Linked DNA regions of Homo sapiens. The protein of the gene in region 2 purifies or fractionates together with the protein of the main gene of each other region. This does not show direct contact. Each region holds a gene or a part of one and is shown on either strand. Other genes may lie near its edges.

What was found.
Region 1: the proteins of OIT3 (region 2) and MYO1D purify together in Homo sapiens (affinity purification with mass spectrometry; one large-scale study listed by BioGRID and IntAct). This does not show direct contact.
Region 3: the proteins of OIT3 (region 2) and GAS6 purify together in Homo sapiens (affinity purification with mass spectrometry; one large-scale study listed by BioGRID and IntAct). This does not show direct contact.
Region 4: the proteins of OIT3 (region 2) and ALDH4A1 purify together in Homo sapiens (affinity purification with mass spectrometry; one large-scale study listed by BioGRID and IntAct). This does not show direct contact.
Region 5: the proteins of OIT3 (region 2) and GALNT12 purify together in Homo sapiens (affinity purification with mass spectrometry; one large-scale study listed by BioGRID and IntAct). This does not show direct contact.
Region 6: the proteins of OIT3 (region 2) and MYCBP2 purify together in Homo sapiens (affinity purification with mass spectrometry; one large-scale study listed by BioGRID and IntAct). This does not show direct contact.
Region 7: the proteins of OIT3 (region 2) and ZNF77 purify together in Homo sapiens (affinity purification with mass spectrometry; one large-scale study listed by BioGRID and IntAct). This does not show direct contact.

The regions. Positions count from the first base shown.
Region 1 is NC_000017.11:32,762,125-32,765,624, reverse strand, and holds part of MYO1D (unconventional myosin-Id), read left to right. Parts: intron 1-543; coding exon 544-747; intron 748-3,500. UniProt on the Homo sapiens protein: Unconventional myosin that functions as actin-based motor protein with ATPase activity. Plays a role in endosomal protein trafficking, and especially in the transfer of cargo proteins from early to recycling endosomes.
Region 2 is NC_000010.11:72,896,739-72,900,238, reverse strand, and holds part of OIT3 (oncoprotein-induced transcript 3 protein precursor), read right to left. Parts: intron 1,576-3,500; coding exon 1,201-1,575; intron 1-1,200.
Region 3 is NC_000013.11:113,854,077-113,857,576, forward strand, and holds part of GAS6 (growth arrest-specific protein 6 precursor), read right to left. Parts: intron 1-3,500. UniProt on the Homo sapiens protein: Ligand for tyrosine-protein kinase receptors AXL, TYRO3 and MER whose signaling is implicated in cell growth and survival, cell adhesion and cell migration.
Region 4 is NC_000001.11:18,896,056-18,899,555, reverse strand, and holds part of ALDH4A1 (delta-1-pyrroline-5-carboxylate dehydrogenase, mitochondrial isoform a precursor), read left to right. Parts: intron 1-2,407; exon of another isoform or gene 2,408-2,485; intron 2,486-3,500. UniProt on the Homo sapiens protein: Irreversible conversion of delta-1-pyrroline-5-carboxylate (P5C), derived either from proline or ornithine, to glutamate. This is a necessary step in the pathway interconnecting the urea and tricarboxylic acid cycles.
Region 5 is NC_000009.12:98,831,670-98,835,169, forward strand, and holds part of GALNT12 (polypeptide N-acetylgalactosaminyltransferase 12), read left to right. Parts: intron 1-70; exon of another isoform or gene 71-79; coding exon of another isoform or gene 80-102; coding exon 103-288; intron 289-3,500. UniProt on the Homo sapiens protein: Catalyzes the initial reaction in O-linked oligosaccharide biosynthesis, the transfer of an N-acetyl-D-galactosamine residue to a serine or threonine residue on the protein receptor.
Region 6 is NC_000013.11:77,320,595-77,324,094, reverse strand, and holds part of MYCBP2 (E3 ubiquitin-protein ligase MYCBP2), read left to right. Parts: intron 1-3,500. UniProt on the Homo sapiens protein: Atypical E3 ubiquitin-protein ligase which specifically mediates ubiquitination of threonine and serine residues on target proteins, instead of ubiquitinating lysine residues.
Region 7 is NC_000019.10:2,938,472-2,941,971, forward strand, and holds part of ZNF77 (zinc finger protein 77), read right to left. Parts: intron 937-3,500; coding exon 810-936; intron 1-809. UniProt on the Homo sapiens protein: May be involved in transcriptional regulation.

The DNA.
Region 1 (3,500 bases), on a different chromosome or scaffold from region 2:
TAGCTGGGCGTGGTGTCAGGCACCTGTAGTCCCAGCTCTTCAGGAGGCTGAGGCAGGAGAATGGCGTGAACCCAGGAGGCAGAGCTTGCAGTGAGCCAAGATCGCACCACTTGCACTCCAGCCTGGGCGACAGAGCGAGACTCTGTCTCAAAAATAAATAAATAAATAAAATAAAAAGTTTAAGGAAAACAAAAACTATAAAAGCATTAGAGGAAAGCATCAAATGCTCATAAACCCTTTGGAGTAGGAATGGTCTAAGTATGACACCAAAGAAAGAGAGACCCTAAGGCAAAAGATTCATAGATTCGATTACATAAAAATGTAAAACTTTTATCTATCAAAAACATACACTGAAAGCAAAAAGATAGATGAGTGTCCGGAGAAAGGGAAAAAGTAGATGAAACACTGTTTTTATATGTTGAGATGTATAATGTATTTAGGAAAATAGGTACAAACAAGGTCACCTGAATTGTATTTTATATTGGCAAATATATCCTTGACATAATGTTTCATAATGTGTTATTTTTTTCACTTTTGATACAGGGAAATTTAAAATTTGTAGTAGATGGTGACACGCCTCTTATTGAGAATGGCAAAGTAGTATCTATCATAGCAGAATTGCTCTCTACTAAGACAGATATGGTTGAGAAAGCCCTTCTTTACCGGACTGTGGCCACAGGCCGTGACATCATTGACAAGCAGCACACAGAACAAGAGGCCAGCTACGGCAGAGACGCCTTTGCCAAGGTGAGAGTGTAACTGACCCTATGTCACCTGGTGTTGATCGCAGTTGCAAATTGAGTGAAATCCTGTGAGCATGTATTCAGACATTCTTGAAAGAGGGTTAAGGCTTTTAGAAACCATAATGATACTTTCTGGCCATACAAGCCTCGGTAAAACTCCCAGATGTAAGTAAGCATCACTGCCAAAAAAGGTTCTGAGAAGAGTGGAAGCTGACTGGGGGTGGCGCTCATGAGGGCTTCACGTGCTGCTTCTCTCACTCAATAATGCTTCGCCAGAGTCAACTGACTGAGCTCTGATCCATTTTTTTTAAGTTTTATTTATTTTTAATTGACAATAATTGTATATGTTTATGGGTACAGTGGGATATTTCAGGACATGTACACATTATGGAATGATCAGATCAGACTAATTAGCATACCTCTTACCTCACCTACTTACCATTTATTTGTGGTGAGAACATTTAAAATCCACTCTTAGCAATTTGAAACAATATTATTAGTATTATTATTAACAGTCACCACGCTTTGCAGTGGATCACCACAAATTATTCTTCCTGTCTAACTGAAACTTTACCCTTTGACTAACGTCTCACACTTTCTCCATCCACCCCGCTCCTCTAGCCTCTGGTAATCACCATTCTATTCTCTGCTTCTATGAGTTTGACTTTTTCAGATTGCATATAGGTGAGATCACACAATATTTGTCTTTTTGTGCCTGGCTTATTTCACTTAGCATAATGTCCTCCAGGGCTGTGTACTAAGCCTGCAGTGATAGTACCACAATTTATTTAACCACCTTACTCTTAAGTCACCCACTTTACTTCCCTTTTTTGCAACTGCAAACAATGCTGCACGTCTTTATACATCTATGCTTATATACTAGTGCTTTTGTTTCAGCTGGATGGATTCCCAGGAGTGAGCTTGCCAGGTCAAAGGGTATACTTATTTTATTTTTATTTTTTGAGACGGAGTCTTGCTCTGCCATCCAGGCTGGAGTGCAGTGGCACAATCTTGGCTCACTGCAACCTCCACCTCCCGGGTTCAAGTGATTCTCCTGTCTCAGCCTCCCAAGTAGCTGGGATTACAGGAGTGTGCCACCACGCCCAGCTAATTTTTGTATTTTTAGTAGAGACAAGGTTTCACCATGTTGACCAGGCTGGTCTCGGACTCCTGACCTCAAGCGATCTACCTGCCTTGGCCTCCCAAAGTGCTGGGATTACAGGCGTGAGCCACCGCACCTGCCATATATTTATTTTAAACTTTAAATTTACTGATTTTATGGCTGCATGGTAATATTTTATTGTTACTTTTATTTCATTACTAGTATATTTGAGCATCTTATCATATTTTTGTAGAGTATTTTAACATATTCTAAGAATTGCCTGGGTATATCTTTTGTGCATTTTTCTTTGGAGCTGTTATCTTTTTATTGTCAATTTCTAAGTGTTCTTAGCATATCATAAACTTTAACCCTTTGTTATCTGTGTGGCAAGCGTTGTATTTTCTCACGTCTAACTTTCGTTGTTGTTGTTTTGCTGGTTGATTAGTTTACTGTCTATTTCATTTTTTACTCTTGTAAGTCTTAGGCTTGGTTTTTAGTTTTGGGGGAATTTGAATTTTTCCTAAGTGCAATGGAGAGCAATAGGGAGGACTTTAAGGAGGGGCAATGACATCAAGTTTGCCTTTTTTTTTTTTTGAGATGGAGTCTCGCTTTGTTGCCCAAGCTGGAGTGCAGTGGCACAATCTCAGCTCACTGCAAGCTCTGCCTTCCGGGTTCATGCCATTCTCCTGCCTCAGCCTCCCAAGTAGCTGGAACTACAGGCGACCGCCACCACGCCCAGCTAATTTTTTATATTTTTAGTAGAGACAGGGTTTCACCATGTTAGCCAGGATGGTCTCCATCTCCTGACCTTGTGATCCACCCTCCTCGGCCTCCCAAAGTGCTGGGATTAGGTGTGAGCCACCGCACCCGGCCGTTTTTTTGTCTTTTTTTTTTTTTCTTTTTTTTTTGAGACGGTGTCTCTCTGTCACCCAGGCTGGAGTGCAATGGTATGATCTCAGCTCACTGCAACCTCCACCTCCCGGGTTCAAGCAATTCTCCTGCCTCAGCCTCCTGAGTAGCTAGGATTACAGGCACCCGCCACCATGCCTGGCTAATTTTTGTATTTTTAGTAGAGATGGGGTCTCATCATGTTGGCCAGGCTGGTCTCAAACTCCTGACCTCAGGTGATCTGCCCACCTCAGCTTCCCAGAGTGTTGGGATTACAGGCATGAGCCACTGCACCTGGCAAGTTTGCATTTTTAAAATGATCACTCTGGCCTTAGTATGGAGAATGTTATGGGGGCTAGAGTAAGAATGGAAGCAAAGAGGTCAATTAAGGGGATATTTTGTTAATCCAGGAAAGAGATGAGGGCAGCTTGAATCAGAAAAGTGAAAGTACAAATGGGGAGAGGAGGATGATTTGAAATGGACTGTGTTGAGAAAATAAAATCCATAGGACCTATTATGTGGAGAATGAGAGAAGCAAGAATAATACTTTAACATGGTCTGGCTCCAGCCCACCTCTCCCACCTCATTTTATACTATACCCAGCCCCCCTTTCTTCAGCCCAGCACATTAGTCTTCTCTCAGTCCTCACAGATTATCCTGATCCCTTTCTCCTTCCAGTCACAGGGCCTGTGCACATCTGTTCCCTCTGCTTGGACTGCTCTTCTCTCCTCTCTTGCTTGGCTACCTCTTACTCATCCTTCTGGTCT
Region 2 (3,500 bases):
GCAATCCTCTCACCTTGGCCTCCCAAGTAGCTGGCACTACAGGCATAAGCCACTGCATCCAGCTGACCCTCTTCTTGAGAGAGCCTCATAAGTGCAGCCTGGGGGATGAGTTTCCAGCCACCATCAAGGGAATCCTCATTGTTCAGGGTTTATATAAACCAATGGAAAACAACAATCTAGGGCATCTTCTGTCATCTAGATCAATGATTCCCAACTTCAGATCCACAGGCCCTTGAGTGGCCATAGAGTTTCTGCAAATCCAAAACCTCACCATACAAGAGCTATAGACTAAGAAAGTGTTATGTCCTACTCTTCTAGTGTTCTATTTAAAAAATGAATACAGACATTGACAGGATTAATAACACAGAAATTAAAAGTATTACTGACATAAAGTAGCTTCTTCCCATTGTATATCACTTAAAAAAATCAGTGGACACTAAACACAATCCAATCACATGGATGTCTGATTATCTATCTATCATCTATCTATCTATCTATCTATCTATCTATCTATCTATCTATCTATCTATCTATCATCTATCTATCTTAAAAAGGGGTTCTCCATACTCAAAAGTTGGAAATCCACCATTTAGATAATCTAAATCAGTGTTTCATTTTCTTTTTTTCTTTTTTTTTTTTTTTTGAATCAGAGTCTCACTCTGTCACCCAGGCTGGAGTGCAATGGCACGATTTTCGCCTCACCGCAACGTCCACCTCCCGGGTTCAAGCAATTCTCCTGCCTCAGCCTCCCGGGTAGCTGGGGTTACAGTTGCCTGCCACCACGCCTGTCTAATTTTTGTATTTCTAGTAGAGACAGGGTTTCACCATATTGGCCAGGCTGGTCTTAAACTCCTGATCTTGTGATCCACCTGCCTCAGCCTCCCAAAGTGCTGGGATTACAGGCGTGAGCCACTGCGCCTGGCCCAATGTTTCATTTTCTAATGTTTTGTTTGAATGGAATTCAGACAAAATTAAAAAGAACTGATCAAAGTCATAGCTCCTTTCCCCTTCTATTTCTTCAGGAATTTTTCAGAAGTTCTAAGAAGAGATCTCAGAAATCAGAGGTATCTTTAGCCCCACATCAATGTTGTTCAGATTGAGATATAGTTGCCACTGTAACTGCATATCCTATAATTGGCACTTTTGGACTCCACCTGTGGCCTTGTTGGTGGAGAAAAAGAGCACAGGGAAGGTACTCACGACCACAGTAGACGTGGAAGCAGACGCTGGGCTTGGTCAGACGATACACATAGTAGCCTCCAGGGCAAGCCTTGACTTCCACCGTGGTGTTCCAGAGACAGCAGTTCCCATTGAAGCTGGCACAAGCCTGGCGTTGCACAATGCCGTCGCCTTCTAGGGGGTGGCTGCCATTGAGCCAGACAGGTGCGTGGGTTCCACAGTGGTTTTCTGGTATGCAGAAGGTAGGCATGGCATCTCCCGCCATGCCCGTGAAGTGGTACCACTCCCCATTCACATGGTTGTCACATAGAGGAGGACCTTGAGACTCATCCAACTGGTGGTCAGTGTTCCTCCAGGGCTCATTCAGGCTGATGTAAGCAGAACAAGGATCTAGGGCTGGAAATGAAAAAGATACCTCAGAGTACCTGGAGTGTTTCGGATCACACCACCAACAGCCCAAGTCCAACTTCTTGGTCTTGCATTTGGACATTTTTGAATTCCAGAGAGAAATTAGTTAAGGTCACAAAAAATAGCTGTTTAAGGTTCCTCAGGTTGATTTAAACATGTTGCATAAATGCCCTTTTCAAAAGTATTTCAAACCTAAAGTTAAGTGTTAGCATTGAACTGAATTTTTATCCAGAGTAATTATTTGATAGAAGGATAGTTGATCAGACCAAGGGAGGTTAGGATTAAAGACTCACTGAACTCTGCACGAGTCAGACCACACTCTGAGTATTTTGTTCATACATGGAGACTGTATTATTATTATTTTTGAAACAGGGTTTGGCTCTGTCACCCAGGCTGGAGTGCAGTGGTACAACCATGGCTCACTGCAACCTCCGCCTCCTGGGCTCAAGTGATCCTCCCCACCCAGCCTCTGAAGTAGCTGGGACCACAAGCGTATGCCACCACACCTGGCTAATTTTTTTTTTTTTTTTTGGTAGAGATAGGGTTTTGGCATCTTGCCCAGGCTGGTTTTGAACTCCTGGGCTCAAGTGATCCTCCTGCCTCAGCCTCCCAAACTGTTGGGATTACAGGCATGAATCTGGTGCTCGGCCGGAGACTGTATTTTATGAAAGTAATTGACAAATTTGTTCAGAGAAAGTTGAACAGACTTAGAAGGGGTCCTAAAAATTATTTACAGGAGAAGTTGAGAACTATCATTTTGAAAAAAGAAGATGGAAGAAAATGCATATTAGTTTTTAAAAATCTGGAACAGGCGTGTGAAAGAGGAATTAGCTATTCTGTTACAAGAACAAGAATGAATTATGGGAAAGCACGTTTCAGTTCAGCTATCCAGTCATGGAGAGGCTGTGTCACAGTGCAGTTAGCTTCCAATCCTTGGAAATTTTCAAAAAAGTATTTGGCTGGCCATTTGTAAAGATTATAGGTGGAATTTTGCATTATTAGAAAGTTTGACTTGATCAGGAATGTGTAAAAGCTCATTCCACTGAAAAGAAAAAGGCCTCGGGCACATGTCACCTACTTTGAAATACAGAGTATACTAGCATGTTGTTACCAGAAATATTCTCAAAGTGAATTTTGGTATATATTTTACCAGCTTATTGAAAATACCAAGAACTTTGTGTATTCACAGTTAACCATGGCATTACTATCCTAGCTGTCATATAGCCAAGTTTCTCAGGCATACATATTTAGTGCATAAATTACAAGGACAAATATCTCAACCAAAACATTTTATTGTATGTCATGAAAACATTGGAAAACAACATTTTGGCCAGGCACAGTGGCTCACACCTGTAATCCCAGCACTTTGGGGGGCCGAGGCGGGTGGATCACCTGAGGTCAGGAGTTCGAGACCAGCCTGGTCAACATGGTGAAACCCCACCCCTACTAAAAATACAGAAATCAGCTGGGCGTGGTGGCACGTGCCTGTAATCCCAGCTACTTGGGAGGCTGAGGCAGGAGAATTGCTTGAACCCGGAAGGTGGAGGTTGCAGGGAGCCGAGACCACACCATTGCATTCCAGCCTGGGCAAGAGAGTGAAACTTCGTCTCATAAATAAACAAACAAACAAATAAATAAATAGAAAAACAACATTTTAATGACTAAAGAACCAATATCTCCAATATTCTCATTGCTCCCCTTAACTCCAGGGAAACTAATTAATGAATCAACATAGGTAAATTGTCCTTATGAAGAATCTATGAAACCAAGAAATTCTAGAAAGGAACATTGGCCAGAGAGTACTATATTATCCTTCTTAATGCACATGAGGTTGACTTACGTAACTGATATCATAGGCAGGAAATTCACATTAGGGCCAATACATTTTGTGGGCAGGGAATTCAGTATTAGCA
Region 3 (3,500 bases), on a different chromosome or scaffold from region 2:
CACCCAGGGTCAGCGGTGACAGGTGCCTCTGCCCTCCTCCAAGCTCACACCCAGGTGCGCCCTCCCTTGCTGGGAGCCCTCTTCCTGGGAGCTCATCCTGGTGTGACTGCCCGGTCAGATGTGGATGCTGGGAAAGGCCTCTGTAGCTGACTGCACAGCTGTGAGCACCCTCCATGCCTCACAGCACCGACGTGGTGCCTGACCCGGTGGGTAACCAAGCTCTTCTCACAGAAGCCCCGAGACACACATCAGTGTCTCTCATGGGCTTCATGGCAAACGAGACAGAGGAGCTCGAGTGGCTTCCAGCAGCTGCACGGCGGTAACGCCGAGACTCGCCCCGCATGGCAGTGACGCCGAGACTCCCCCTGCATGGAAGTCATGCTGAGACTCAACCCTGCACGGCAGTAATGCTGAGACTCACTCTGCCCGTCTCTGCCCCAAACACAGAGCATGCTCCCGACAGCCCCCAGCAGGGTGTCCTGTGGTGCACAACATTCAGCATGTGAGCGTGGACGCAGGGAAGGAACAGAGCTGCAGCCCCCACAGGCCCTGAGCCAGCACAGGCTCTCATCGAGGAAGGCCCGCTGTCTTTCAGGGCAAGCCCCACCGAGGGCTGCCTGCTTTGAAGTGCAGAGCAGTGACTGTCTCTGGCCATTTGGCAGCATCCTTGCGGGCCCTGAGAGAAGCCAGTCAGGAAGCCACACAGCTGTTGGATGGGAGGGATGCTGGCCACAAGAAACACTACAAGGAGAGAGGCCCAGGACACGCCACTGTTTGCACGTGGTGGGCAGAAGGGAGCCTGGGAAAGTGCTGACTAAAGACAGGCCAGTCTGTGGGGGAGCAGAGGGCGGGGAGGAGGAAGGAAGAGGGTTCCTCCGTGCCCACCCCAGCCCCGGTGGCATCGCTGTCCTGGGAGCAGCCTCGTGCCCGCAACAGCTGCCGTGGAGAGGAAGTGGGATGTCTCACTGCAAATGCTTTGGGAAAAACAAGACAGTGTACTTTGTGATCATATAAAACAGCAAAATAAAATAGTCGTGGGCACAGGGCCAGTGATTCTGCAGTTAGAGCCGTGTGGACTCGGTCCCCATCTCCGGTGAGGGCGTCTCCTGCACACGGCACCCATGCTTCAGGTCGCACACACGTGCCTTGGACCCAAGTTCACCTTTGGAGGTGTCAATCCCCCCAAGAAGATGTGCTAACCTTGGAGTTTGGGGCCTAGGCTTCCATCAGAGTCTTCCCCACAGAAAGCGAACTGGGACTGGTCCCTCAATAAGCTACCGGCCTCTGTTCACAGCAGCACAGGATGAGGATGCCTGGGTCTTGCCAGCCACCACGTTCTATGATCCCAGGACAAACACGATTGCAAAGTTCATGTGTGTTCCCGGCTTACAAATGGGGAGGTTTATTTACGGCCTCTCCGGATCCACGGGGAGCTGCTCCATGGGACGCTGGACAGCTCAGTTCCCTTGAAAGGATGGCTGCACCATCGAGCATGACTCAACCCAAAGATCCAACGCGCAGGGGCCTGGCAGGGACAGCTGTGCTTGGGACGCCGGTGTGCCACTGCCGCTTCTGCGCCGGGAGTCACGCCCCGGCCTCTCCCACTGGGCTCCCAGCCTGAGCTCTGCCCAGCTGGTGTAAGGACAGTAAAGGCAACCAGATGCCCTGACTGCGACCACCACCAATAGTCGCCAAGAGTGCACGCAAGCAGAAATCACAGATGCCCTGGCAGCTGCCTGAGGGACAGGCTTCTCCTCCAGCTTTATCCAAGTTGAGCTGGTCTTCGGCCAGACGACCAAGCTCAGGCCCCAAATTCACCTGGGTTGCTCTGAGGACTGGTGAGACTTAAAGGTCACTTGGACTCCTCCAGTGGCCGGGACACATGTCTCTCTAGTGGACTGGTTGCCTTCCGTGTTGTGAGGACCGGCCAGGCCTGCAGGTTGGTGCCTTCCTCTGGCCTCACTGAGCAGCAACACTCAAGTTCAAACACAAAACCACCATTTATGGTGGAGCCATGGGCTCTGTAGCCCAGCATGACGCACCTGGCAGACCATGTTCACGAGACTAATGCTCCGAGCCACTGACACACACCCAGCTCCCCGCAGCCGCCCTGTGCTTTATGCGCCCACACCAGCACCACTCAGCCCTCACATGGGTGCCAGTATGCTCACAGTCGCCTGCACACAGAGGAGCACACAGTGGGGCCGGGGGTGCTGCCGCGTCCTGCTCTCCCCCAGTCCCAGCGAGCACAGGAGTTAATGACAGAGTGTGGGGCTCAAATGCCCAGGACACACTGTAGCCCTCCACAGCCTCTCAGGGCCTCAGTTTCCACATCTGTAAAATGGCTCAGTGACAGCTGTTACACAGTTGTCATGAGGATGTAACAACTTCACACATGGAGACCCCGAGAACAGCACTCTCAGGAGGACCCGTGCACGATTCATCTTTCAGACTAACAGACGAGCTGAGCGACGGACGAGCTAAGTGATGGATCTGAGAACGGGAGTGATCGGGAAGTGAACAGTTTCATCATCTGCTGCTGCTATTCAATTGTCAGGGTTGAAATAAACGGAAAGCCAGCCTGCCCGTAAACACTGTCATGTATTTCCCACAAGTGTAAAAAGGAAGTGAACAGTATCTTCCAGGTGTGGTGGAGACAGTCCAGACACACCCAAAGCCCACTGCGCCTCCCTGAGAGCTCCCGCGTCCGGGCTGCCCTCATTTGGAGTGGGCAGGAATGCCACACCGCAGCCCTCTCTGCTTCTGCAGGGACGGTCAACTTAGCAATTCAGAAAAGAAACAATGTTGACTCAGAGAGTGGCCTTACTGTACTGTGGACAGTTGGTCCTGGATGGGAGCCAGTCCCAGCCTGGCCGAACGTTTGGCCTTTTTATGCTGAGAATCCAGCCACTGCAGTGACCGGCCCAGGCTCTCTGAGGGCTGGCTGGGTCAAGCTGTGTGTTTTCCATGGAGCCCCAAGTTCCAAGGGGAGGTAGTCACAAAACAGGGTCTAGCAGGTTTGTGGACAGATGTGGAGAAAATGTATTTTCTTATCATAGGCACTAACACTGGAAGGAAAAAAATTTCACCTATAATTTGAAAACGGAGCCCCAGAAAATTAGTAGAACATTAACAAGGCCCAATGCACTTTACTATTTCTTTTGAATATTATACTTTTAATCAACACCCGTCAGTCAGAGCAGAGAGTGCCTCTGTCAGAGTGAAAGGCAAAACTGATACTGTTCTTAACTTATTCCACTTCCAGCTCCCCTTTAAAATTTATTTTAAAACTTTTAAAATGAACCTTTCACTTGGCCAGGGTCAAAATTTACAAGGCGTACACACCAGGTTTGCAGTGAAATCACTGGAATATAAAAACCATGGAAGAGTCCAGAGCATTTCCAACATCAAATACGAAACCCTTAAACAAGCAGCTTTGCATTGGAGAAACAGCTCTCAGTTTTAACCTTAGAAAACAGGGGAAAATGAAGCATGAGGAA
Region 4 (3,500 bases), on a different chromosome or scaffold from region 2:
CTGACTTCCTGTTTTTTTCTCAATCAACTTTACCATCAGTATCCTCAGTTCTCTTTGGAAACAGGCAGGATACAGATTAATAGCCAGCCCAGGCATGTAGTAGGCTTATAAGAGTTCACTTCTGTTCCTTATTTCTTGTGCCAAGCCCAGACATGACTCCAGCTCAGCCCGTCTGACATCAGGGGGCTTGTGGGCCGGAATTGGTTACTACCGTGTCCCCTGCAGTGATCCTGGGTGGTTTTGGACTCTTCTCAGGCTACCTGATGGTTTAATTTTCAAAATATCAAAAGCACACAATGCTTTTCCTAGTCTGCCCAGCCCTTGGATGGGCACAGCTTGCCCTGGGTCGAGGGCTGGCATTTCCCACCATTCCTTAGACATTCTCTGCTCTTGAACTCCTCCAACCAGTGGCTGGGGCAGTGCCTTTGGCCTGGAATGTCCTGCTGGCCACCTCGGTGAGCCCATCCAGTGCTTTGTGGCCTTGGCAAGGCAGCTTCTGTCCCTTCAGTATCCTCGTCTGCAAAATGGGGATGATTGTATTAACAGCCACGTAGCAGGTGGCTGCAAGGATTAGCGGTGATGTGATCAGTGGTTTCCTGGATGCTGGTACCGAATGCGTGCTCTGTGAGTATTTGAGTTGGAGAATAATTAAAACCTGTGATTATCATCACACTTCTAAAGTAGTGAAAGCGCCATTGAGGCAGTGCTTGGCAGTGGCACCCCTGGGAGCAGCCTGCCTCCTGTGCCCTGCATCTGGCCCGGCACACAGTAGGCGTTGAACGGTTGCTGTTGAGATGGTCCAGAACACAGCATGGCTTGGATCCTGGCTCCAACTCTTGGCAGCTCTGTGGCCCCGGGCAGGTTACTCACCCTCTCTGGGCTCCCTTATGTTCTCATATGGAAAATAAAGATGACAGTAGTAGTCACCTCATAGGATTGTCCTGCGTGTTAAATGGTCTCATACATGGAAAGCACTTTGGAGTGCCCAGCACCTGAAATGCTCAGTAAGTGCTGCTGTGGTTATGATGATCCCCCTCTCCCACCAATGGGCTTCCTGGAGTGATCATCTTCGATCAGGAATATCAAGACAGCAGGGCCCAGCAGTGAAGGATGGTGGCAGGAGGGGAGGTATGGAACTCAGATGTCCTCGGTCTCTTCTGTTTATTCCAATTAAGTACCCCAGATGCCAAACCTCTTCTGTTATTATTGTTGGTTTGTTTGTTTGTTTGTTTTGGAGACAGAGTCTCACTCTGTTGTCCAGGCTGGAGTACAGTGTCATGATCTCAGCTCACTACAGCCTCAACCTCCTGGGCTCAGTCATCCTCCCACCTCAGCCTCCCAAGTAGCTGGAACTACAGGCGCACATCACCATACCCAGCTAATTTTTGTATTTTTTTTTTTTCGTAGAGACGGGGTTTCACCATGTTGGCCAGGATGATCTCAACCTCCTGGGCTGAAGTGATCCTCCTGCCTCAGCCTCCCAAAGTGCTGGGATTATAGGCGTGAGCCACTGCGTCCGACCTTCTGTTAGGGTTTTGACCCTGCTCACCTCAGGGGATGGAAAAGACTTCTCCCTTTCTTGCAGCCTCCTTAATCCCCAAACCTTCCCTTTCCTGGCAGAGGTCATGGCATGGAGTGAAGAGTCCCTGGGCTGAGCTGCTGTGCCAGTGGACAGCTGAGTGACCTTGGGCAAGTCACTGCCCACCTTGGGGCGGCGGCTTTCCTCAGGTGGAAATGAGGTTCTAGCTGTATGGTGAGGAGGATGAACGTGTCCCATCAGCCCCACCTGACCATGGGCCTCTGAGATGTTCCAGGTGCTTCAGCCATACTGTAAGTCTCCTGAGTAAGGAACAGCTGGGGTCAAATCCTGCTCTGTCACTCATGAGCTGTGACCCTGAGCCAGGAGTGAGTAACTCTGAACCTCATCCGTAAACAGATCATTCTACGGTCGAGTGTCCCTCATCTGAAATGCTTCAGAACAGAGTGTTTCGTTTTTTGGGTTTTTGTTTTTTTGAGACGGAGTCTCGCTCTACCTCCCAGGCTGGAGTATAGTGGCCAGATCTTGGCTCACTGCAACCTTCACCTCCTGGGCTCAAGCCATCCTCCTACCTCAGCCTCCTAAGTAGCTGAGACTACAGGCACACGCCACCACGTCCAGCTAATTTTTGTACTTTTAGTAGAGATGGGGTTTTGCCATGTTGGCCAGGCTGGTCTAGAACTCCTGACCTCAAGTGATCCGCCCTCTTCCGCCTCCCAAAGCGCTGGGATTATAGGCATGAGCCACTGCGCCTGGCCGGAAGTGTTTTGTATATTGGACTTGCTTGGATTTTGGAGAATTTGCCGAACAAGTTGAGCATCCCTACTCCCAAGTTCCAAAGTCCAAAATGCTCCAATGAGCATTTCCTTTGAGCGTCACGTTGACACTCAAAAAGTTTCAGATTTTGGAACATTTCGGATTTTGGATTTTTGGATCAGGGATGCTCAACTTGTCATGCGTTCCTCATACGCTTATGTGGTGGATTCAGTGAGATGATCCTGTCTCACTTAGGTTAATGCTTGGCATGTGGTGGCAAGTGCTTGACAAATGTTGCCTGATGTTTGCTGGGCAGTGGCTGAAGCAGCTCATCCCTGGCATTGGGTCTTTCTTTCTTTTTTTTTTTTTTGAGACATCGTCTCACTCTGTTGCCCAGGCTGGAGTGCAGTGGCACGATTTTGGCTCACTCCAACCTCTTCTTCCCGGGTACAAGCAATTCCTCTTCCTCAGCCTCCCAAGTAGATGGGATTACAGGCATGTGCCACCATGTCCAGCTAATTTTTGTATTTTTAGTAGAGACGGGGTTTCACCATGTTGGCCAGGCTGGTCTCAAACTCCTGACCTCAAGTGATCCACCCTCCTCAGCCTCCCAAAGTGTTGGGATTACAGGTGTGAGCCACTTTGCCTGGCTGGGCCTTTCTTTCCCTCCAGGCCCCGCCCTGGGCCCTGCACTTTCTCTGCTCACCTAGTGTTGCCTTTATGTCGGTGATAGGGAGGATTAGCCTTATCAGGCTCCAGATAATGGCTGGAAAAGTCAGGAGGCTGCATGAAGCAAAGATAATTTCCTTTCTATTTCTCCTCTCCTTGTCCTTGGCCACCCCTCACCTTAGCCACTGGGGAACCCAAGGGGCCAGTGTCCAGCCCCAGGTGATAGCAGAAGAGCACTGGCCTTGGAGTCCAGTCCTGGGGGCCTGGTGTCAGCTCTGACACTCATGCATTGATTGTATTTCTCAGGTGCTTACTGTGGCCAGTCAGTGTGTTAGGCTTGGGGTGCCTGGTGGTGAATGGGATGGGTACGGGCTGGCTGTGTGGAGCCTGTGGCCTGGCGGGCACACAGATGGTCAGTCAGAGCTCTATAATAGGGTTTTCACTAGTGCTTCCAGAAAAGTCTAGAGCTATGAGAGGAATCCGATAGGAGCCCCATTCCGGCTATGTGAGGTTGGACCAGTGGAGGACATCTCAAGCA
Region 5 (3,500 bases), on a different chromosome or scaffold from region 2:
TCTTATTGGAAGGAAGACAAGAATTCACCCTTGAATTTCCCAATTGTCTTCCTGCTGCCCGTCTGCATAGGAGAGACGGATGGATGTCTTGGGTGCTTTCAGGATCCATGAAGAGGAGTCGGCAGTGGTGTGCCCGGTGATTGATGTGATCGACTGGAACACCTTCGAATACCTGGGGAACTCCGGGGAGCCCCAGATCGGCGGTTTCGACTGGAGGCTGGTGTTCACGTGGCACACAGTTCCTGAGAGGGAGAGGATACGGATGCAATCCCCCGTCGATGTCATCAGGTCAGGAGCTGACTTCTGGGTGACTTGTTTTTTAAGCATGCCTCATTGAATCTGGCTGACCTGTGAGCGGAGGCCCTCGGGAGGAATGGTTAGCTGTCAGCTTAACTACCTCCCCTCTTCCCACTTTTTTGCCCAGAGTATTTGTTTATTTTTATTAAACGTGTCTGCTACACATGTCAATTTTATATCGGTATATTTTATTTATTTAATTTTTAAATTGTGGTAAAATATACATCATAGAGAATTTACCATTTTAACCATTTTGAAGTATGCAATTTTAGGCTGAGCATGGTGGCTCATGCCTATAATCCCAGTACTTTGGGAAGCCAAGGTGGGAGGATTGCTTGAGTCCAGGAGTTTGAGACCAGCCTGGGCAACATAGCAAGAACCTATCTCTACAAAAAAATAAAAATTAGCTGAGCATGCTAGTGTGTATCTGTAGGCCTAGCTAGCTGGAAGGCTGAGATAGGAGGATCGCTTGAGTCAAGGAGTTCAAGGCTTTAGTGAGCTATGATCACGCAATTGTACTGCAGCCGGGCGATAGAGTGACACCCTGTCTCTATAAAAAAATAAATAAATAAAACAAAGCATGCAATTTTAGTGGCATCGAGCACATTCACGGTATTGTGCAAACATGATCTTTACCTATTTCCAGGAATTTTTCATCATCCCACACAGAAAATATCCCCACTAAGCAATAACTTCCCATTCTCCCCTTCCCAGCCCCTGGGAACCTCTGTTCTTTCAGGCGCCCCATGTGAGTGGAATCATACAATATTTGTCCTTTTGTACTTGGCTTCTTTGACTTATCATCATGTTTTCAAGTTTCCTAGAGAACATCATTCCTTGTGATGGCTGAGTAATATTCCTTTGTACATATATGCTACATTTTGTTTATCCATTCTTCTGTTGGTGGACACTTGGGTTGTCCTTTGGTTATTGTTAAATAATGCTGCTATGAACATCGGTGTACTTTTATCTGCTTGAGTCCCTGTTTTCCATTCTTTTGGGTATACACCTAGGAGTGGGATTGCTGGTCATATGCTCATTCTTGAGGAAACATCTTTAGGCCCCTTTGACCTGGGGTGTGGGTGGATCCATGGCAGGTGGAGGAGTCTGCTCTGGCCAGTGGGTGAGTCAAGCTCTGAGTAGAATGGGCCCAAGGGAGGCTCAGCAGCTCTCATTCTGGAGGTTTTGAAGTGATAGCCTGGCTTCTTCCTCCCCTTCCAAGTTCAGAAGCAAGTGGGAGACAGATGTGGGAGTTGGGCAGGAGGAGGTCAGGACTTCAGCCTCACCGCTGGTGTGTTGAACCGGAAGTAGGCTCTGAGTTTTGCGTCCACATTTGGCAGTTGGGCTTCTGAATTCTTTCACCAGAGTCCTGACCTTAAGATGACCCGCTGCTGGCAGGAGTGGAGCAAGCAAGGAGAGTGTCCAGAGATAAGGCTGGAGAGATGGGCGGGGCCAAGGGAAGGGGTTTGGACTTGACCCTGAGCAGGTAGAAGCCACTGAAGGGATCGGAGCAGGAAGTGACCTGAGCATGTGCTGCGTGCCATGTGGTGAGGGCCCTGGGGGGACCGTTGTAGGCAGGGATACCATTAGGAGGCTCTGCAGTCTTCCAGGTCAGAAACAATGGTTCAGGAGATGGTGGGCACTGTGGATTCCAGAGATGTTAAGATGGAAGAATTGGAAGAAATTGAGTGGGAATTGGGGAAGGAAGGAATTAAGAATGGCACCCAGGCTTCTGTAGGAGCCCTTAGTGAGAACATCCTGCTCAATCCCTCACTGAATAGGTTTGGAAACTGAGACACAGAGCAGGAGGCTCTAATCTAGGCTACTTAGGCAGCCTGTCATGAATTCATGGGGGTCCATGAATTCTAATTGCCCCGTTACCCCACATGCTCAGGGCACCTATCCTCCCCATCCCATAATATCCCTGTGCCTCAGTTATCTCATCTGTATAATAGGTACCAGCATATCCACCCTGCTTATTTCCTAGATTTTTAGGATAAACACACGTGAAGGTGCTTTGTAGTCTAGAACCTTCCCTTCCACTGGGGATGTTGCTGTTGTCTTCTCAGTTGGCCCCATGCTTGGAGTCCAGGGCAGGCCCCGATGCTGCAGGATGTTAACATTTTCAGTGGTTGCGCTCTCAATGTTCTCTTTCCCTATTTTTTTTTTCAAGTTGGGGTCTCGCTTTGTCACCCAGGCTGGAGTGCAGTGGCATGATCTCAGCTCTCTGCAACCTCTGCCTCCTGGATTCAAGTGATTCTCCTGCCTCAGCCTCCTGAGTAGCTGGGATTATAGCTGTGGGCCACCACACCCAGCTAATTTTTGCATTTTTTTAGTAGAGACAGGTTTTCGCCATATTAACCAGGCTGGTCTTGAACTCCTGACCTCAGGAGATCTGCCCGCCTCAGCCTCCCAAAGTGCTGGGATTACAGGTATGAGCCACCGTGCCCAGCCCTTTCCCTATTTCTGAATTCATCCTTTTGCCTGTGCAACTCTGGGACGTGCTGACCTTACAGTGTTCTGCCGTGTAGGCTGGAAGCCGTGGGCCGTTTCTGGTTAGTGCTGGCTTCCAGATAAACCTGGTGGTGGGTGGCGGGAAACAAGGCTGGCTGAAAAAGCAGCCTGAGGCTGGCTAGCTGGGTCCTAGTGGAGGAAACCACTCAAGAGGACCTGGCCCTCGGGGCACTTTCAGATGCCAGAGTTGCCTTTAGGGCCTTCTGCATACTGGCCTCTGAGTGGCATCTGTGAGTGCCTGCCTTGTGAGATCACACCTCCTCAGATGACCATGGCCTGGAGCCTGCCTTCTTCTCGGAACGTGGTCTCTTGCTTCTCTCTTCTCCTTGCTCTCTATGCTTCTAAATGTCCCTGGATTTCTCCCACCCTTAAGCCTTTGCTCATGCTGGAGAACCATTCCATTTCCCTTCTTCTTCTTGGCTAACTGTCCTTTGTCCTGCAGACCTTGCTTCCTCCAGGGAACCTAGTCCTGCCCTTTTGCCCCTGCCCTCCTCAGTGTTCTCCCAGGGCCCTGGCTGACCTTAGTTAACATATTTAGCACACACATAGTACTTACCTGCTGAGAAGCCTGGGAGCCACCTCAAGGCAGGGACCGTAGGGTACATCTATGCCTCCAGGCCCAGCCTAGTGTGGGGCACAGAGGTGAAGGCGGGATATGCTTAGAGATGACAGATGAACAGATGAAAGGG
Region 6 (3,500 bases), on a different chromosome or scaffold from region 2:
TTTTGGTAACTCAAGGGGATTTCAAAGTTGAGGGAAGGATATTCAAGTATAGGAGGTTGGGTGGGATATGCAAATATGGGAGGCTAAATGGAGAGACAGAGTGAAGAAGTGAGAGAGGGGATAATTGATAGGAAAAGGTCAAAGGGATCTCAGGGACAGGAAGAGGTCAAAGGGATCTCAGGGATAGAGTTAAGGTGACAGGTGGAGAGGTTAGCCATTGAAAAAAGGAGCAGTTAATATAGAAGGGGTGGAGGTGAGTACTTGTAAATATAAAGACTGGGAGTTTATTGAGGATAGGCATCATATCCTATTCGTTTTGATAATCCCAATGTCTAGCACATTTTTTGGCATGAATTCTGTAAACATCAAGTGCCTGCTCTGTGCCAGGCAGTATTGCAGATGCTGAAGATGTAGCGGTGAGCAAGATAGACAAAGTCTCTGCCGTCTTGGAAAATCCACTCCAATGGGAGAAATAGACAACTCATAATTTCACTTAGTAATAAGTAACTGTGAAGGCAATAAAACCTATTTCATGTGATAGGGCAATTTGTAGTGGGGCTATTTTAGGTAACATGGTCAGGAAATGTCTCTTTGAGAGTTGGCATTTAAATTGAATTGCCATGATGAGGAGGCAGATGTAGAGGAAGAATGTTCTGGGAATTTATAAAGGCCTTGAAATGGGAACAGGCTTGTGTTCAAGAAACAAAAACATGATGAGTGAGTTATCAGTCAATGTCAAATGAATTAATTACTCTTTGCTTTAGGTGTACAGTTGAGAAGTTGAGAGTTTCAAACCTAATGGACTCAGTGACTTTGATGACAGTCTAACAAAGTGGTTAAGAGCTTGGGCACAGAAGCTAGACTGGTTTTGCATCCTGGTTTTGTCATTTGCTAGCTGTGTAACTTTGAGTATATTACATAACTTCTATGCCTCAGTTTTTTAAATATGTAGAATGGGGATCATAATACTAACATGAATTGTTTTGTAGATTAAATGAATCAATGTATGTGCTTGGCATGTTGACTGCTATGAAATATTAGTTACTGTTTTTTGTCTGTTTGTTTTTGCTGAGAATGAGGGGTGTGGGGACTTGAAGAGAAGGCAAGGATCATGTCTTACTCTTTTATTTTTGGTCTCAGTGACTGTGTAGAATGTGGGAATAACTCTTTCATTTATCCAGTGACTGAATAGATATATTTTTGGATGAATGAGGCCAATCAAAATCGGAACATTCTGTTGGGGAAAGGGGTTGGACAGGAAATGTATGAAGGAATGTATGATCTGTTCTGAATGTGAATGGTGGTATAACCATGCACTTGGGAGGCACCATAGCACAGTGGCTAAATGTTAGAGCACTGGAGGTAGACTCCCTTAGTTCACGTCTACCTTTTTCTACTTGTGTTAAATTGGGCAAGTTAATTAGACTTTGTCTGTTTCTTTACTTGTAACTTTGTAGTGTTATCAAAAGGACATTATGTCCGCACCTGGTAAGTGCCCATGAAATGTTACCTGTTGTTATTATTAAAATCACATTTAAAATTCCAACCAGCATGGCACTGTATGTTTTTCCACACAAAATAGAAATGGAGAAAACCTAGTTGAGTTGATTTAGGGTTAAAGAAAAAAGAAATGGAAGGTTTTGGGGACAGTGTTTGACTATATGGTAAAAAGGAAAGTGATGCCAAGAGGGAACTGATAGACTGGAAGATAAAGAGGAGTCAGAGTATCTGGGTCCTGAAGTCCTAGAAGAACAATGTTAGTGAAAACAATAGAGGGGATTGTGACCAAAATGGGGAATCTAAACTTAACCCCCTTAGTTTTTTCAGCTGCTTTATCTCTTTCTTGTTAGAAATGGTATTTGAGTCCATCCTTCAGATGCATGGGATTTTGGTTGTAAGAGGTTAAGTAGTCATTTTAGCAAAAGTTCAGGGATTATTTTATTTTACTTATTTTGAGGCAGGCTGGAGTGCAATGGTGTGAACATAGCTCACTGCAGCCTCAACCTCTTGGGCTCAAGTGATCTTCCTGCCTCAGTCTCCTCCAGTAGCTGGGACTACAGGCATGCACCACCATGCCTGGCTTGTTTTTTATTTTTTGTAGACACAGGGTCTCACCATGTTGTCCAGGCTGGTCTTGAACTCCTGAGCTTAAGTGATCCTCCCACCTCCACCTCCCAAAGTGCTGGGATTATGGGTGTGAGCCACCATGCTCAGCTTGCTCAGGGATTATTACTTGGCACTAACCATTGGCCCTATAAAAATTTATAAGACACAAATTCTAGACTTGAGTTTACTGTCTATCTGGAAGTGCAAGATACAAAGGCAGATACTTATAGAAGTGTTAAATGAAATGACCAAGAAAGTATAACCTACTATGACAAAGGCATGGCATTCTAGGCTGGCTTAAAAGCATCAGCAGAGACAGGAAAGCACAGTTTGTATGTAGGTAACAGTAGGAATTCTGTTAGAGCTAGAATGCAGGTGTCATGAAGGACAGTAGTGGAATTCATTCTGGAAATGGAGGCTTTGGCTAGGATGGGGCATCTTGAAGACCAAGGTAAGAATTAGATTTTATTCAGTAGACACTGATCACCCTTGATGGTTTTAAGCTATGAAGAGACGTTATTTATTGTAGGAATATGTCAGGAAGTAATGCGGGATTGAATCTGTATGTGTACATCTGTATTTGTGCATAGGTAGTAATTTTCTTCATGTAGCTGTTATATCAGTGGAATCCTGTATAGTGTATAAACACAAGTTAAGGCAAAAACTGCTCTATTGGTATACTGGTAGGTAGAAATGTGAAATGAATTAGTTTCCTAACTCAAGAGAAGAAAAAAATCTTGCCTCTGGGCTTAAAAGGAAAATAAAAATGTCAATCTAAAAATACTTTTGTCCTTTAATATATTTGTTTAAAAAATCAACAGAATAGTCTCACTTTTTTCTCAAAAACCAGATTAAACATTTAGGTTTTCTGAGGAGGGGTTAGGTTAATTGAGGTTTAATTTATATACAATAAAATTCATCCTCTTTAAATGTTCATTTGAAGAGTCCTGAAACTATCACCACAGTCAAGTATAGACTGTTTCCATCACTTCATATAAAAAGTTCTGTCAGGCCCTCCTACCCCTGGTTACTGACCGCTGCAAATCAGTTTTCTGTCACTAATATTTTACCTTTTCTAGAATGTCATATAAATCTAGCTCCTTAAGGGCAGGGCCCCCAGGTATTGTTCATCTTTCTGTCTTGTATCTGTATTTCCTGTAAGTGGAAGCTAGACCTTAAGGGTTTATTAGGTGTTCATTAGAAAATTTTTTAGCAAGAATATTGTATATGGCGCTGGGTACTGCATGTTGCATCCCATCCAGAGGTTGTGAGGTTGTCTCACTATTTAATATGTTAAATCTGATTACTTGGGTAAGACGGTACCTACTAGATTTCATCTCTGTAAATGTATGCTTTTTCCATTTGTAAAGAACAAGTAATCACAGGGTAAAAAT
Region 7 (3,500 bases), on a different chromosome or scaffold from region 2:
AGAATACTCTACTCAGACTTATAAAATGTGGGCAGCCAAGGACTGGTGATCAAGAAAACCTAAATATCAATCATACACAAAACTTTGTTTTCATGGAGAAGCATTTTGACTCCCATGTTCCATGGGTGTTGGGATCATGTCTATCTCTTTTCCAACATATTTCAATTTTTGAGCTCAAATAAAAAGAAAAACAAGGTATCTTAGGCCGGGCGCGGTGGCTCACGCCTGTAATCCCAGCACTTTGGGAGGCCAAGGCGGGCGGATCACGAGGTCAGGAGATCGAGACCATCCTGGCTAACACGGTGAAACCCCATCTCTACTAAAGCTACAAAAAATTAGCCAGGCGTGGTGGTGGGCACCTGTAGTCCCAGCTATTCAGGAGGCTGAGGCAGGAGAATGGCATGAACCCGGGAGGCGGAGCTTGCAGTGAGCCGAGATCGTGCCACTGCACTCCAGCTTGGGCGAGAGAGCAAGACTCCGTCTCAAAAAAATAAAAAAAAAAAAAAAGAAAACCAAGGTCTCTTTGCTCTCCAGGACGCAGTGAGGGAATGATGCCACCCTTACCCAAGGAGGCAGTGAGGGAATGACGCCATCCTTACCCAAGGAGGCAGTGAGGGAATGACGCCACCCTTACCCAAGGAGGCAGTGAGGGAATGACGCCACCCTTACCCAAGGAGGCAGTGAGGGAATGACGCCACCCTTACCCAAGGAGGCAGTGAGGGAATGACGCCACCCTTACCCAAGGAGGCAGTGAGGGAATGACGCCACCCTTACCCAAGGAGGCAGTGAGGGAATGACACCACCCTTACCCAAGGAGGCAAGGTTCCTGCAGGTCTCCAGCATCACATCTCTGTAGAGGCTCCTCTGAGCATGATCCAGCAATGCCCACTCTTCTGGGGTGAAGTTCACAGCCACTTCCTCAAAGATCACGCAGTCCTAAAACATTCCACACATCCCACTTCAGCAAAGGCACCGCCTCCCCCATGTGCGCAGGAAGAGGGGTGAGGCTGACAGCCTGGGGAACTGAGCCACACAGAGCTTATGTCCTTGTGAGAGGTGACCAACAGTATGAAAAAGTGCAGTACACTCAATGCCGTGAGTACCTTCCCAACAGGGAGCAAAGCGCAATGACGGCCTCTGCCAGAGACTTACAAAGAATTACTGAGAAACGGCAGGTATGAGGGTGGGGAAACACTGAAAAATCTGAAAACATCATTAAGCTAAGGCTGGTGGCTCATGCCTGCAATCCCAGTACTTTGAGAGGCTCAGGTGCGAGGATTGCTTAGGGCCAGGAGTTGGCGACCAGCCTGGGCTGCATAGTGAGATCCCGTCTCTACAAAAAAAATAAAATACAATAAATTAACCAGCCATGGTGGTACACACCTGTAGTCCCGGCTACTTAGGAGGGTGAGGAGGGACAATCGCTTGAGCTCGGGGGTTCAAGGCTGCAGTGAACTATGACTGTGCCACTGCACTCCTGTCTGGGCCACAGAGTGAGACCCAATCTCAAAAAAATAAAATAAATCAATCATTCAGGTAACATGGAAATTGACATGACTTGCTCAAATTTTATTATTTCTTATTCAGCTATAATATCAGCACTTTGGGAGGCCAAGGTGAGAAGATCGCTTGAGGCCAGGAGTTCAAGACGAGCCTGGGTGACAGAGCAAAGACCCTGTCTCTTAAAAAAAAAAATTAAATTAAATTAAATTTTAAAAATACAACTATGAAGAAAAGCAAGGAGATTATTTCCTTATAATTTAGGATATTGGCCAGGTGTGGTGGTTCACGCCTGTAGTTCCAACACTTTGGGAGGCCAAGACAGGCAGATCACTTGAGTTCAGGAGTTCGAGATCACCCTGGACAACACAGTGAAACCCTGTCTCTACCAAAAAAAAAAAGGCTAAAAGAATTTAGGATAGGCCGGGCGTGGTGGCTCACGCCTATAATCCTAGCATTTTGGGAGGCTAAGGTGGGCGGATCACAAGGTTAAGAGATCAAGACCATCCTGGCCAACATGGTGAAACCCCATCTCTACTAAAAATACAAAAATTAGCTGGGCGTGGTGGCACACGCCTGTAGTCTCAGCTACTCAGGAGGCTGAGGCAGGAGAATCACTTGAACCCAGGAGGCAGAGGTTGCAGTGAGCCGAGATGGCGCCATTGCACTCCAGTCTAGCAACAGAGTGAGTCTCCATCACAAAAAAGAAAAAAAAAAAAAAAAAAAGAATGTAGAATACTGGCCTGATCTGGAGGGAGAAGCCTACCATTACACATCATTTCAAATTGGATGCCAAGGCTTCTTCGAAGACATGGCCTGGCTGTCGTTACACACTGTTCACTTGAGGACGTTTCCACTGACTCTGTAATTGTCTTACAAAAGTTCTACATGTGTTCAATTTTATAATAAAATGCTATCAGCAGCTGGGCTTGGTGGCTCAGGCCTATACTCCCAGCACTTTGGGAGACTGAGGTGGGAGGACTGTTTGAGCCCAGAAGCTTGGGACCAGCCTGAGCAATATGGTGAAACCCTGTCTCTACAAAAAATACAAAAATTAGCCAGGCATGGTGGGGCACACCTGGAGTCCCAGCTACTCAGGAGGCTGAGGTGGGAGGATCATTTGAGCCCAGGAGGTTGAGGCTGTAGTGAGCCACGATGTCACCACTGCACTCCAGCGTGGGTGACAGAGAGACGCCCTACCTCAAAAAAAAAAAAAAAAAAAAAGGCTGGGTGAGGTGGCTCACACCTGTAATCTCAGCACTTTGGGAGGCCAAGGCGGGAGGATCACTTGAGGTCAGGAGTTCATGAGCAGCCTGGCCAACATGGTGAAACCGCACCGCTACTAAAAATACAAAAATTAGCCAGGTGTGGTGGTGCATGCCTGTAATCCCAGCTACTTGGGAGGCTGAGGCAGGAAAATCACTTAAACCCAGAGGCAGAGGTTGCAGTGAGCTGAGATCAAGCCACTGCACTCTAGCCTGGGTGACAGAGTGAGACTGTCTCAAAAAAAAAATAAAAATAAGTAAGAACACAGCCAAATCACCACTTTCAGCCCGTGTTAAAGGACAAAGGGGTGAGTGGTGGATTCTAGAAGATCTAGAAGTTTTTCTGTCCCACAAAGGGTCCCATGCAGAAAACAGGTATCAGTTAATGATTAGGGTCTCATGCAGAAAACAGGTATCAGTTAATGATTATCCTCATGATAAATTGTTCGTCAGTCCCCTAATCGGAATTGCCGCTTCTCTGTACTGTGGGTCGTATATTACAGAATGCGCATCTGTCTGATGCGCAGATACTAACAGGAGACGGAGCAGGGTCCCCCACTGTCACAAACTCTGCACCCTGCCTAAGTCAGTGCTAGTTTCATGAATGTTTTCAATCCACACCTTCGCCCACCTCACAATATGGCATGGGGCTGTGTGTGCGCCTTTCCCCTCATCCTAATGGAAGATGCAACGTCTTCCGAGTTTGAGAGTTTTCCACAGCAGCCTTCTCGGGCT